2 linked regions of the Homo sapiens genome follow. The protein of the gene in region 2 interacts with the protein of the main gene of each other region in a pairwise test. Each region holds a gene or a part of one and is shown on either strand. Other genes may lie near its edges.

Region 1 (4,098 bases), on a different chromosome or scaffold from region 2:
TCCCTTTGTCCTGTTCCCTCAGAAGCATGTCATCTTTGTTAGACCCTTATTAGTAGTTCTGCTTTTTGCCTTTTGAAGCATGTGATCTTTGTACCTACTCCCTGTTTTACACCCCCTCCCCTTTTGAAACCCTTAATAAAAACTTGCTGGTTTGAGGCTCAGGTGGGCATCACGGTCCTACTGATATGTCACGTCACCCCTGGCGGCCCAGCTGTAAAATTCCTCTCTTTGTACTCTTTCTCTTTATTTCTCAGCCGGCTGAAACTTATGGAAAATAGAAACAGCCTATGTTGAAATATTGGGGGTGGGTTTCCCTGATAATTTGTCCCCAAGTGACACCCTGTGAGCCAGCCCTGGGTGGTACAAGGACTCCTGTGGGAGCCACAGGAGCAGGTGCAGCCCCAGGCTGCTGGTGCTCTCAGAACTGCACAAACACTGCTTTCTGAGAAACCAGTACAAGTACTTTCTAGTGAGCGGGGAGGGCATCTCCCAAACCGGCTATGACCTAGTCACCTGAGGTGCCTAAAAGTCTCTCTCATCTGTGCCTCACTCCAGCTTTGGAAGTGGGACCTCCTTGTCTAAGCCACTCTTCCGGAGTGAGCTGCACAGCCCAAGGGACAGATTTCACACCAGCACCTTATGCTAGCCCAGAGAGACAGATGTCACTCACTGCAACACAGCAGAGGTGCAGACTAAGTGGCAGCCAGGGGCCATGAGAGGGAACATGGTGGAGGGGGACAAACAGGGCCCTCCTGGCCAGTGAGCCCTGGGCTTGGATCCAGTTAAATCACCTCTGAGCCTTAATTTCCTCACTCACATAATGGGCACAGTAATCCCCGTTACACAATATTGAGGTATGATCCCCACTGCAAAGGGCAGCGGGATTGTAAACCCAAGAGCTGGAAGGGAACATCTGGCAAGAAGGGTCTAGAGAGCTATCTCCTTTTCTTCATTATTACTTTTCAACAATCTACCTCCTACGTCCTCCAGAGTCAAGCTCCAGCCTTTCTTCTCTGCAAGCTCCCAGGGTTCTGCTCCTTGCAGAGGACACACCCCTTGCCCACTGACTGTTGCCCACACAGCTGTCTGTGGCTTCCCCTGGGACTTGGGGAACGCCTCCTGTCAGGTTCACACTCCATTCTTGATGGGGGCTTCCACTCTGGTTCATGCACTCTGGAATCAGGGACCAGCTGGGCCTCAGACAAACCTCAAGCACTGTAAACCCTGCCTCACACAGGTCCTGGGGCAGGAACGTCCCCGTCAGAAGTACTTGCAGACTGTGGTCTCAGCCAGCCTGCCTCATCTTCCTCGGCGTGGCTGAACTGGGAAGGAAGAGAGAAAGGTCACTTCTACCATCCTCCTCCTCCCCACAAAGGGCCAGCACACCTTAGGCCAGGGTGCAGGGCAGGACTGCCCACCTTATACTCTACCAGGTATGCAGCTGAAGCACTACCAGAGGTCTTTAGAAAAAGGAAGCAAGGCTGAGGTCAGACAGAGTAAATGATCTCAAGAACTCAGATCACTAAAGTTATTTAAAGTAACAAATACACTTTTAATTGATTTCAGATAAAAACTACTCAAGGAAAGTCAGTAATCGTTTTAGCCCCTAATCTGTTAGAGCCGTATGGTGAGCAGCCTTGAGTAGCTGGTTTAACTGGTTATTTTCCCGAATTCCCACCATCCACGGTATTAGAAAAAAACAAGGCATTGTCTCAGTTTAGGATAAACACATGGCACAGTAACCAAATCCAGTCTCTCATATCCCGTATTTTTTCTTTAGCTCTTCTACTTTGTTGATGTAAGCTTTCATGGCATCTTCCTTGGAAGTCCCTGTAAGGAATCGACAGGATTATGTGTCAGGGAGGTAGCATGGTAGGAAACAAGCAGCCTCCAGAGCCCCAGGCAGCTCTGCTGTAACTCTCCTAGGCTCAGTTTCTCACTTAATAAAGTTGAGATTCTACTAATTACAGGAGACAGTATCCACAGAACCTGGCCCGAAGTGAATGCTCCATAAGCAACTGTGCTCAGAAAGCCTGGTGGGGCTGGCCAAGATCTGTCGCCCATCTGCTGGACACCTGCGTCCCCCACCTGTCCTGGGGGAATGGCCATTGTGAGCCTTGGGAGAGAGGTGCCACCCTCCAGACAGGTAGGAAACTGTCATCGTGGTGACTTTACTGGTCCTGCTAACTCTCGTGGCTGATATTGGCTTTGGCCTTTTCAGTGTCTCTGTTTTGGGCTCCTATCTTCCAGAGCTGTTAAGCTGGCAGTGAAAAAGCAAAGCCAGGCACCCTCTTCTCCCCAGAGAGAGGCTATGAGAAAAGTTTCAGGAACTCTGACCAAAAGTGGCTGCTTCTTGGAGGGGAATGAGACAAATCTTTGTCTTCTTGCTGCAGTAGAAAGGACACTGAATGTATCCCTCAGAGACAGTGACACCCAGTTTCCTGGATTCTATGGTGAAGGATAGAGACCCTTTGGAACTCAGAGCTTGTTCTGAAGCACTGGAGAGTACATGGGGCCTGAGGATGGTATGGAAATGTCCCATGAAAATGGGCAGGCAGATGGGCATTCCCTTCCCAGTTACTTGCAGATCCTAGGAGTGTGTTTATTGTATTGTGGCCCTTTCTGAATTCAAGGGTTTCTCATTCGCAGAAGGACAGAGGGCTTATTCAGAAACTAGCCAGCAGGAACACTAATGCTGCCAGGAGCTTTGGTGCCAACTCTTGGGTCTTGCTGCTGCAGGTGGCACGTGATTAAGTACGAGCTTGGATACTTCTTGGCTGCTGGTGCTTAGCATATAATGGCTCCATTCACTGAGCCTACGATGCCAGCGGCAGGCCATGCATTAGCTCATTCCCTTCTTTTATGTATCCTTCTGGCTAGGAAGGAACTGGGGAGGGCCACTGGGGTTAGGGGGTCACCGCCTGGCCTTGTAGGGGAGAGGGAGTTGCAGACAGGAAACCACCCCTTATTCTGAACACATCCAAAGCCTACGCCAACTACATCATTTCCCAAACTATTTTTCAGTGGCCTGGTTCCCAGCCCCTCCTCTCTAGATGATGCTCCTGCTCAGAGATGGTGCTTTTAGAAAAGGCATAAATGGTGTTAGGAGAAAAAGTAGGTGGCCCGGTTTTTTCCCATTCTGGCACAGGTCAGGCTGGTTTCCCACACGTGCCCCATTGACTTTGTTTTCTCTCCTCTTCCCTTACACTTCATAATGAAGACTCTTTCACTACTGGGTTTCACAAATGAGAGAAATTGATTAGAACAATTACCTTTCAGCTCATTCCAGGCATCCCACTTGGCCTTGCCCGTGAAGTCCAACATCCCGGGCCGTTCTTAAACAAGGGAAGAAAAGGCATTAGATCTGGTTCAAATTCTAATGGAGAACTTGATCAACCTTCTTGCCATAAATGCCATCTTCTATTACACCTGTTCCTTCTAGGCTCTGTCATGGGGTTAAATAGGTCTAGTAGAGTGGGTTCTGCCCTAAGAAAACCAATGTATGCCAATCCAAACTTAAAATCTAGAGCAAATAGGAAGAACAGTATTCTTATTACAAGATAGCCTTTGTCTTACAAGTTAAATGACTCCAAAATTTCTCTTTTAAAAAAATTATACTTTAATTACAATTAAAAAAAAAATCCATTCATATGTCTTAAAATTCAAAAGCTACAGAGGAAAATACTATAAAGTTTCTCTCTCACCCCTGCTGTTAGCTACCCAATTTCTCTCCCTAATCATTAATGATATCAGGTGTCCTTTCCTATGAACTGTTTATATCCTAGCCCCATTTTTCTACCGAATTGTTAGTCTATTTCTTGCTGATCTGTGGGAGATTTCACCGAGGGTAAGGTTTCTTTAAGTTATATGATGACTTTATGCTTATAGACCTGTTGTCATCTGCAGTTGGGAAACACACTCACCATCTCCCTGTTGTCCTATTTCACTACGATGCCCAGCCCCAAAGCCACAGGGAACAATCAGAGTCCGTAGCCTGGAGCACTGTGCCTGAGAAAATGTCCCTGAGCGCTTTCAGGGAAGTGTTCCCAGGGACAGCTGAAACAAACTGCCCTTGTGGTCATCATCAGGATCCTAGAA
Region 2 (5,562 bases):
CTTACATGACATTTACTCTTACTGGTTTCAATAGAAGAATAGAAGAGGTAGAGAGTTATGATTGGATGAACCTGGAAAAGCATGATCTGGGATACTGCTCCACTAATTACCTTCTTTTCAGTTCAGTGCCCCCTTTTCTGAAGAACATACTCAACTCTCTGTCAAAGAAAACTTCTTTGACCTTATTACTCCATCAAATAATAGTACTCATCCCTTCTCTTCATGAAATTTTTTTTTTTTTTTTGTAGAGACTTTTTTTTTTTTTTGAGATGGAGTCTCGCTCTGTCGCCCAGGCTGGAGTGCAGTGGCATGATATCGGCTCACTGCAACCTGCACCTCCCAGGTTCAAGCAATTCTCCTGCCTCAGCCTCCCGAGTAGGTGGGACTACAGGCGCCCGCCAATGCGCCCGGCTAACTTTTTGTATTTTTTAGTAGAGATGTGGTTTCACCATGTTAGCCAGGATGGTCTCAATCTCCTGACCTTGTGATCCGCCCGCCTCAGCCTCCCAAAGTGCTGGGATTACAGGTGTTAGCCACTGCGCCCAGCCCGAGATGGGGGTCTTACTATGTTGCCCAGGCTGGTTTCAAACTCGTGGCTTCAAGAGATCCTCCTGCCTCAGCCTCCCCAAGTACTGGGATCCAAGTAGCAACATAGTAAAGTGGAAAGAACCCAAACTTCTTATTCTGACCTGGGTTGAAATCCCAGTTTTGCCATTTACTTGCTATATGACTGAGTCACTTAACTTTCCTTGTTTCCTCATTTATAAAATGGACTTAATATAATATACCACAGGGCAGGGTTTCTCAACATTGTCACTACTGACATGTTAGGCCAAATCATTCTTTGCTAGGAGGGCTGTCTCAGGCATTATAGGATGTTTAACAAATCCCTGGACTATACCCACTAAAAGTCAGTAGCAACCCCTTTGATTTGTGACAACCAAAAATGTCTCCAGACACTGCCAGATGTCTCCTAGGAAAAGATAATGCCAGTTGAGAATCACTGCTACAGGGTAACAATGAGAACTAACTGAGATAATAGGTCAAGTGCCCGATACAATGTAGATCTTCGACTCCCCTTTGGTTTCCAGGTCCCTTCAGTTCTCCTTCCTATCTCAAGCCTCCTTCTTTCTCCTTTCTGAAAGTTCTTCCTCTTTCACTCCCACAATGGCCACAGGATCTAAGATTCTATTCATAGCACTTCTTCATTACCTACATTATTTTTGAAATTATTTTTTATTGATTCATAATCATATTTTCATGGTATTGTGATAATTTGATATATTCATATAATCAAATCAGGGTAACCTATACTATTTCAAGTGGCATTCTTAGCTACTTCTATAGTTCCAGCAATTGCCTTTATTCTACTTGCCTGCAAAACCAGGCCTTTTCAGAAATTCTAGTCCCACATTTACAAGTTAGAGGAAGGAGCTTTTTTGTGCCTGACAGAAATGGCTTAACGTCAGACCATGACAAGTTACTTCTTTTCTGAATGTTTCTTCACCAATAAAATACAGATTAATACCTGTCTCACAGAATGCATAAGTATTAATTACTTCTTTTCTGATGTTTCTTCACCAATAAAATACAGATAATACCTGCCTCACAGAATGTTGTAAGGATTAAGTAATTACATCAAGAACTTAGGACAATATCTATCATATAACAAGTTTTCAATAAATAGTAGCTGCTATTATTACAGATCATCTCCACCTAAATGTCCCATGGATATCTTAAACTCATGTTGTTCAAAGCTGAAGTGATCTTATCTCTTCTATTTCTGCTACTGACATCACTCTAGGCCTCCTGGTAGGAAACCTTAGTTTCATCTTTTGTTTTGTTTTTAAAGATGGGGTCTCCCTATGCTGCTCAGACTGGTGAAAAGTGGTTATTCACAGGCACAATTATAGCACACTATAGCTTCAAACTCCCAGACTCAAGTGATCCTCCTGTCTCAGCTTCCTGAGTAGCTGGGACTACAGGCACTTGCCACCATACCCAGGTTCATCTTTGAACATACCATAATCCCATGAACTGCCAAATGTATTGCACTTAGTTTAGCAATTTCTCTTAGGCTCACTGACATAACCCTAGTTCAGATGTTCATTACATTCTTATCTGAATTACTGCAATAGTCTTCTAAATGATCCTATTTTTAGACTCCCCAAACCTACCCTACACACTGCTAATTTAATCTTCCTAACACTTAGATGACATAGAAAAATGTTCAACATATACTATTAGGCTTAAAAAACAGATTACAAACCAGTACATACTGTAGTATAATCCTAATTTTATAAAATATGTAAAAAAAAAAAAAAGCTCCCCCTTCCATCCACACATATATACACAAAAAGACAAAGGAGGGGGGAAAAAATCTCTCAAAGGATATACTCCTAAATGGCAAGAAAAGTTATCTCTGGATAGTTGGATTATGGGCAATTTATTTCCTGGTTTGAACTTTTTCCTTTGTTTTCTGCAGTTCCGACAATAAATGTATTATTTTATATAAGAGTTAAACAATTAATAATATAACATATATCCTTCTGTGACTTCCTCACTGCTTATGTTAAAAAGTCATAAATTCTTTGGCATGCACTCAAAGACCTCTATGGCCTTATTCAACTACTCTCCTCTTATCATATTCCCTACTTTCTATTCCCACTGCTACCTGTTCAAATCCATCCACTCCTTCAGGGTTCTGCTCAAATACCTCTAACATAATCATGGCATAAGTGAAAAAAATACCTGATTCTTAAGTCCCTCATTTAAAAATCCTGCTCTTCCAGTTACTGACCTTGGGCAAGTTAACTAAAGCCTCTGAAATTAAAATGTCCTCACCTATAAATGGAGGACAACACAACCTACTTCAAATGGCAGTAATTGAATAACAGAAGGTAGGCCTGAGCGGTGGCTCAGCTCATGCCTGTAATCCTAGCACTTTGGGAAGCCAAGGCAGGTGGACTGCTTGAGCCCAAGAGTTCAAGACCAGCCTGGGCAACATGGCAAAACTCCATCTCTACAAGAAATACAAAAATTAGCTGGGCAGGGTGGCACACGCATGTAGTCCCAGTAACTTGGGAGGCTGAGGTAGAAGGATCACCTGAGCCTTGGGAGGTTGAGGCTGCAGTGAGCCGTGATCGCACCACTGCACTCCAGCCTGGGCAACAGAATGAGACCCTGTCTCAGTCAGTAACAGAAGGTAAAACAAGTGTCTAACACAATGTGTTATTTGCTTCCATCTTGTTTGTAAGGGACATATGTGGCTCAAATTTGCAGCAGTGATAAATCTTGTAATGTTTTACCCAGTGTTCTCTCCAGAATAAACAAAGGCAAGAGAATGTTAATCAAGGAACAGCCTCAAAACTCACTTATCACACTTCCTCAGTTTCCTGAGGGAAGTTTGAGGGGTTCTCTTTAGCTCCCCTAAAACAGTGGTTCCACTCTTGTTCTACTTCTTTTTTCACTTTCTGTACAAACTATGGAAAGTGATCATTTTTATCCATAACCACGGCTTTATCATCCATAAACTCAATTCTCAAATCTGTATCTCCAACTCAGATTTCTTACTGTATCTCAAGATTTAAAAATCAAAGTGTCTACTGAATGTTTAACCTGGGTGTCCCACAAGAAACCTAAACTCAAAATCCTAAAATAAACTTACATTTCCCCCAAAATTGTCTGTCTTCCTACATTCCTTATGGCACCATTATCCACCAAAGACAGAAACCTGAGAGACATCTTATATTCCTCTTTTACCCCCTTTTCTCCATATTCAAGTTCTGTAATCCACCTCAAACATTAAGTCCCACCTGCATCCCAAACATGCCAGGCAGTTTCACGCCTTAGTGTTTTGGAACACATTTATTCCCTCTACCTAGAAAATCTTCCACTTCCTTCTTTGCTTGACTAACTTCTCTCATCCTTTAGAATTGAGCTGAAGGATTTTTCTCCTCTAGAAAACAAAAGCTAACTAGCATTTACTAAACACACACTATATTCTAATCACTGTGCAAAACACTTCGCATGCATTGTCTTGCCTAATACTCTAAATTCAGTGATGAGGTAGGTATTGTTATGTTTCTACAGATGGGGGAGGCCAAGATGTAACTCATGGGAGGTCATATATAAATAGTAAATAGTAGAAATGAAATTCAAACTTAGGTCTGACCCTAGTGCATAAGAATGCTCTTAGCCACCCTACTATACCACAGCTTCCCTTATCCAGCCCCTACCCCCACAATCCTACAACCTCGTGATTAGTTAGGGGTCTCTCCTCTGCTGCCATAATGAAGGGATTGTGCAGCACACTATAAATCTTTATTGTTTGGTTTGTCTTTTCTCAAATGAGTCTGAGTAAAGCAATTTGAAGACAAAGTCTGTTTCATGTACAATAGTCTCTCATTATCCAGAGTTATCCAATGTCTGAAAATAAATGGAAAATTCCAGAAATAAACAATTCATACTTTTTGTGTGTTTGTTTTTTGAGACAAGAGTCTCGCTCTTTGCCCAGGCTGGAGTGCAATGGCGTAATCTTGGCTCACTGCAACCTCTGCCTCCCGGATTCAAGCGATTCTCCCTGCCTCAGCCTCTTGGGTAGCTAGGATTACAGGTGCCCGCCACCACACCTGGCTAATTTTTTTATTTTTAGTAGCGATGGGGTTTCGCCATGTTGGCCAAGCTGGTCTCGAACTCCTGACCTCAGATGATCCACCCACCTCGGTATCCCAAAGTGCTGGGATTACAGGCGTGAGCCACGGCACCTGGCCAACAATTCATAAGTTTTAAGTTTCACACTGTTGTGAATAGCGTGATGAAATCTCTAGCCATCCCGCTCAGGATGTGAATCATCCTTTTGCCCAGCCTATCCATGCTGTATATGCTACCTGCCCTTTAGTCATCAACATCTGCTCAACATTGTCGTGGCTCAATGATCTGAGATCACCTAAAGCAGATGATTCTCCTTCTGACTTATCATCAATAGTGGCCTAAGGCTATATCACAATGCTGTCATTCACCTTACCTCATCAGGAAGGCAGTTTATCATCTCACATCATCACAAGAAGGGTGAGTACAGTACAATCAGATATTTTGAAAAAGAGAGACCACATTCATGTAACCTTTATTACATTGTCATAACTGTTCTATTAGTTACTGCACCTATTATATAAATTAGACTTTATCATAGGTATGAGAAAAAACATAGAGTTCAATACTATCCCAGGTTTCAGGCATCTACTGGGGTCTTGGAATATGTCCCCCTCAGATAAGGGGGAGCTACAGTATCTGTATCGCTGTACCCAGCAGAGTGCTTGGCCCATGGTAGCCTTAAAAATTATTAGGGGGAGCCAGGCAAGGTGGCTCACACCTGCAATCCCAACACTTTGGGAGACCAAGGCAGGTGGATCACCTGAGGCCAGGAGTTCAAGACCAGCCAGAGCAAGAAAGTGAGACTCCCATCTCTACCAAAAAAACAATTTTTAATTAGCCATTCAAATGGCTTATGCCTATAGTCCCAGCTACTCAGGAGGCTGAGTCAGGAGGATGGCTTGATCACCC

What was found.
Region 1: the proteins of PFDN2 (region 2) and DBI interact in binary tests that used the Homo sapiens proteins (3 or more experiments, as listed by UniProt).

The regions. Positions count from the first base shown.
Region 1 is NC_000002.12:119,369,977-119,374,074, reverse strand, and holds the end of DBI (acyl-CoA-binding protein), read right to left. Parts: intron 3,336-4,098; coding exon 3,273-3,335; intron 1,831-3,272; coding exon 1,757-1,830; 3' UTR 1,532-1,756; downstream 1-1,531.
Region 2 is NC_000001.11:161,110,592-161,116,153, forward strand, and holds part of PFDN2 (prefoldin subunit 2), read right to left. Parts: intron 22-5,562; exon of another isoform or gene 1-21. UniProt on the Homo sapiens protein: Binds specifically to cytosolic chaperonin (c-CPN) and transfers target proteins to it. Binds to nascent polypeptide chain and promotes folding in an environment in which there are many competing pathways for nonnative proteins.